Regions from separate parts of the Homo sapiens genome. Here region 2 is linked to region 1. The links come from fine-mapping of genetic effects on gene expression. A gene starts in region 1. The other region holds a variant in brackets. All regions are shown on one strand. Distances are between the middles of the regions.

Region 1 (2,500 bases):
TTAGAACTGTGAAACATCCTAACCACAACGTCCAGAAGGGCGACTGATCGCAGAGCTTCAAGTGATCTTAACTACGTTATGTGTTCCTAACACACTACAGCTGTGTTCCGCGTCAGCGACGCAGGGCAGAACCATCATTGTATTAACCTTTCCCGCTCATGGGACGCGGTGCTTAGTCCCCGGGAACCGACAGGGGCTCCGCCAACAACTCTGCGTCCCGCTCTCGCGGCCCGGACGGCAGCAGCGCAGGTTAACTGGAAATGGCTGGCAAGGAAAACACCTTTTAAAATAATAAAAACAAACCACTTCTCAGGAGCTTTTCCAGCCTGGAATAAGGAATATTTATAAAAACAGTGGTAGAATATTAGGACGTTTCTAGGTTCAGTTTCACCAAGTGAAAAGACCTGGGATAAGACGAGCCCAGGGCTGCACTGGACTTGTGGGATCCAGAGACTACCCAGAAGGGCCCTGCCGTCGAGGGACCCTGATCTCTGCGCGCTTCGGCGGCGCCCGGGTGGCAGCCGGTGTCCCGCCGCGTCCCTGAGAGGCTTCGGCCTCGTCCGACCCCAGGCTGAAGATCAGGTGGCTCGGGGCCGGCAGGTTACCTGCAGCAGATGCAGCTGGGCCACGAGACGCCGCGGCAGGTGGAGGAAGCAGTCGCGAGCGTTGGTGAAGGCCACAGTCACTGCCGCCCCGCCTCCCCCAGCACCCGCCAGGCGATCGCTGCCCCACATCGTCCCGGAGCGTCGCTCTGGGTTCGCCCACCCTAGCGCCGCAAAGGACCCGGGACCCGGCAGGCCGAGGACGTCGGAGCCGGAGGAGATCGATCGGCCCCGCCCCCTGCGGCCCCGCCCCCTCTCCCCGCTGCGCATCCTGCCGTAAGCCTGTAGTGGGTGGGACAAGAAAGCTTCTGTCACCCACCGCGCCTCTCCGCCGAGCCGCTCGGGGGCGGCACCTCGTTCATCAAATCTTCGCACGCAGGAAACGATGGCCGACGCTGTCGATTCTCCAGCCAATCCTGGCACTCCTTAACTCATCCCGCTCTCTTATTGGATAAAAGGGAGCTCAGTAGGGCGGATGTTGTCCTCCCTGCGAGGATCAAAGTAGGCAAGATGGCGTCGAGCGGCGGGGAGCTAGGGAGTTTATTTGATCACCACGTCCAGAGGGCGGTATGCGACACACGGGCCAAATATCGAGAGGGACGACGGCCTCGTGCTGTGAAGGTAAAGTGATTTTGGTTTCATTCGCTCTCCTCGGTAGCTTTATGTGAGTGCTAGCGCCATATGACCAGCCTACGGAAATAAAGGCACGACAAGGCTTCCGTCAGATCTGTCTCTCGTTAGAGCTGGCGTGAAGAACCCTCGGTCAGTTACCAAAGATTCTCACGACGCCTTTGGTCAAGTATTAGAACATCAACTCCACGAGAATAGGCCTTGGTTTTAGTCATTGGATCTTCTGTGTTTACAGTACTACTTGGCACAGGTAAGCACTCAGTGAATATTCGTTGAGTGATTGTTCCCAGTGACTTCTACCGACTCAATTTCTGGAAAAAAATGTCGACTGAAGGTAGTCTGTTATATGCCTTAGGTAGCCTCTCACATGGACTGTTATTCTTTATGCAGAAGGAATGGCAGAAATTTCATTTTGTGTTCTTTTGCTGACTGGGTTGAACAGATTATTTCTTGTTTTCAAAGTTCTCTTTAAAAAAAAATAGAGGCAGATTCGTCCTAGGCTTATTTGCGAAATACGTTTAATAACTCTGCATTTCTTTCAGGTATATACAATCAATTTGGAATCTCAGTACTTATTAATACAAGGAGTTCCTGCTGTGGGAGTCATGAAGGAATTAGTTGAGCGATTCGCTTTATATGGTGCAATTGAACAGTACAATGCTCTAGATGAATACCCAGCAGAAGACTTTACTGAAGTTTATCTTATTAAATTTATGAACTTACAAAGTGCAAGGTAATGTGCAAGTTAAGAAATGACTCATTTCCTCATTTCTTCCATTCATATTTCTGTCATTTTGGCCCCAAGTTTCCCTCATTCATAACTGAATTACCCCAAAACGTAATCTAGCATATCTTCCTCCAGCCTTTTTAAAAGTTAACTTTACTGAAACACTGTATCCATCACATCATTCCCATGCTTAACAATTTAATGTCCTGTAGCTTGGTAGAGTAGAAGTTGGGTTTGGCCAGGCACGGTGGCTCACGCCTGCAATCCCAGCACTCTGGGAGACCGAGGTGGGCGGATCACGAGGTCAGGAGTTTGAGACCAGCCTGGCCAACATGGTGAAACCCCCCTCTCTACTAAAAATACAAAATTAGCTGGGTCTAGTGGCGCAGGCCTGTAATCCCAGCTACTCGGGAGGCTGAGGCAGGAGAATCGCTTGAAACCGGGAGGCAGAGGTTGCAGTGAGCCGAGATTGCGCCATTGCACTCCAGACAGGGCAACAAGAGGGAAGCTCTGCCTCAAAAAAAAAAAAAAAAAAAAAATT
Region 2 (3,030 bases), 57 kb after region 1:
CTCTTTTGCCCAGGCTGGAGTACAGTGGTCAGTGGTGTGATCATATCTCACTGCAACTTTGAAAAATCCCCCTACCTCAGCCTCCTGAGTAGCTAGGACAACAGGTGTGAGCCACCGTGCCCAGTCAATAGACATTTATGAAACTCTTCTACTTTTTAAATAAAAAGAATTTTGATTGAAAATGACTACCCTCAAGGTTGGTTTAAGGTGTTATACCTTGTAATAATCCAAAATAAGTGAAAGGAAAAAATATATTTGTTGCATTTTAACAAAATCTATGAAAATGACCATCATTTCCCACCTTTATAACAGATAAAAGTTATATACTTCCAGATTTCTCTGTCAGAGTAAACAATATAAAACCAGCATAAACAACACATACTGAGAACTATTACCATTCAACTGACAAAACCTAATTACTTGGAATGAAAAAGATAAATCTTTGACATACTTCTCTACAAGCAGGAACAAATGCTAGAGCCCCTCATGTAAGGAATGTTTACAGAATCAGGGCAAGATGTGGACATCATATGCAATGTTAAAGACAGAGGCATATTGTTATATTTTTTGTATAAACTGTTATACCCTCAAATATTTCATTCAACTGCTTTTGCTAAGCATTTCGATTAGTTGGTGTGGAAGTATGACAAACAATGAAGGCAGAAATGAAGACAATGAAGGCAAGTACCATGTGCAGCTTAGTTCACCGTTTGTAAAACAGGAGTATTATTTGTACTGTTCAACACAGTTAAGTTGGGCTCAAAGCGTCCTCCTACTTGGGTAATAAAATTTGGCCCAAAAAGCCAGGTGCACTGGCTCACACCTGTAATCTAGCACTTTGGGAGGGTGAGGTGGGAGGAGCTTGAGCTCAGGAGAGACCAATCTTGTCTCTACTAAACAAAACAAAACAAAACAAAACAAAACAAAAACCCTCTGTATATGGTGAACTGCAACCTGGCTTGATGTGCAAACAAGTTCTAACCTAATCAAAGAGTATATCCTCTTAACCAATCAACTGAGTCTCAGCCAATCACAGGAGCCCAACCCTCAACCAATCCCAAACAGAAGGCTGCCAAATTATGCCCAAATAAGGCAAACTCAGAACTGCACCAATCAGGTAATCTCTGTATGTCATTTCCTATTGCAAATATAGGTCACCAGGATGTAGAACATCTTCCTCAAGTTCTAGAATCTTTTTCTTGCTCAAATTACCTTTGTTAAATTTAACTGGTCTCAGGTTTTTGTTTTTGTTTTCAACAATATTGATCACATTCTAATTTCCTTGGTATCATGTCATAATTTTGGCAGTACCTAATGGCAAAATATTTCAGGTTAGAATTGTAAAAACTGTTTATTTCCAAAGAGTGCAAATATACACATATCAAGGATATTCAGGTCTAAATTACTAAAACAGCAAACACTGAAAACACCCAAATAGCTA[T/A]CAAACTGGGATTCGCTAAATATATTAAAGTACACACCCTGTTAAATATTACGTAGCTACTAAAATGAATGAAGTAGATCCATAGTTCCTGATAAGAAAATGTTTAAGATTTCTCAAGTGAAAAGCAAAGGCAAGTTGCCAAAATGAAAGAATTATTTTAATAAATAACTAAAAATTTAAAAATCAGAAAAATTAGACTGCATGTGCACCAAAATATAAAGGAAAACATCCATATTCATTCACACACTGGAGAAAAAAATTTTAAATAATGATTACCTTTATAAAACAAAAAATGTAACTGCGTAAACATTATTATAGTAATAAAGGTAAAGAAAATGACAAAAATCCAACCACAATACTGCCACTCCAACTCAGAGAGCTGAACTGTCCTTATGTAAAAATTCACAGATAATGCAGTGGCAATTTTTCATTCTAATGAAAAAAATTATAACATTTACCATGTTTTACAGTCTTCAAGTTATCTAGCATGTATCTTTAAAGTACATTAATATTTTTACATCTTACTGTGTACTATCAAACTGCTTTCATAAAGTACATACCAACCTATTCCTACTTTTCAGAGGAAAATGCTAGTAAAGTAGTATATTCACATGCTAGGACTACGGGTACAATTACATGAACTACTGCTGAATAAGGCTTACTTTTAAGCTTTTGACCACAAACACTATCTCAGTCTGCTTAAGTACACTCCAAATATCTCCATTGTTTATTTCAATTATAATAGCAATATTTTTTAAAGTGCATCTTATGTTCTAGGCTCCATGCAAAACACTTGATAGTCTGCTCTTATTCATTAAGCAACAATACTTTTCTTTAAAACTATGCACAACAGAAAGCTTTTAAAACAAGCAACTATTTTCACAAAGGTACAGGAGTTTTCATTTTTGTATCAGTGTGAAAAATAATGCTTCTAACATTAAGTGGGTGGCATGGTTAAGCATTCACTAAAATATAGAGATTGTGCAATTTCTTGAAACATTTCACTATGACTTAATCATTATAAACACTGTGACCTTGTAAATCAAACATTCACATCCATATGTAACTAGAATTCTCTGTGGCTTCAAACTGCTGCATGAGTTCAGATAACAGAAAATGATTTGTTTCTGAAACTCAGGATGGCAAATTGGTCTCAAGGGGATATGTATGGGGGCAGGTACAAAAAGAGCAATGCAGTAAAACTGGCTAAAGACACAATGTGCAGAATTTCATTTGTCAATTTGATTACCTATTTTTATCTAGAGGATACATCTATTTTAGAGGTCCCAAAGTAGCAGAAAAGAACATGAAGAACACTTCGGAAAATAACAAGCACAAAAGGTGGCCATCATGAACTTAAGAGCCCTTTACAAGTCCTGAATTAAAACGTTCAGTTATAAAAACTGTACAAGAATGCATACCAAGAGTGACCCCTAATGCAAACTACTGACTCTGGGTGATGATAATGTGTCGATGTAGGTTCATGAAATGTAACAAATGTACCACCCTGCTGGTGCTGGCGAATGTTGATAATGGTAGAGCTGCACAAGTGTGGAGGTATATGGGAACCCTCTGTACTTTCTGTTCAA

Evidence for each region.
Region 2: its variant is fine-mapped to the expression of RBM48 in whole blood (TOPMed, PIP above 0.99). The same link has a PIP of 0.9 or more in cerebellar hemisphere.

The regions. Positions count from the first base shown.
Region 1 is chr7:92,527,702-92,530,201 of GRCh38, forward strand. It overlaps RBM48 (RNA binding motif protein 48), which reads left to right and starts at 1,094. Exons shown (of 5, transcript NM_032120.4): 1 at 1,094-1,223; 2 at 1,775-1,965. The coding sequence starts at 1,113. PEX1 (peroxisomal biogenesis factor 1) reads right to left here and starts at 819. Exons shown (of 24, transcript NM_000466.3): 1 at 606-819. The coding sequence starts at 734. RefSeq lists enhancers at 238-417, 1,018-1,397 and a silencer at 648-877.
Region 2 is chr7:92,584,086-92,587,115 of GRCh38, forward strand. All of the region lies in intron 1 of FAM133B (family with sequence similarity 133 member B), which reads right to left. Among named protein-coding and RNA genes, the nearest start is that of FAM133B, 4.8 kb to the right of the region's middle. The variant T/A (reference allele first, on the strand shown) is at 1,442.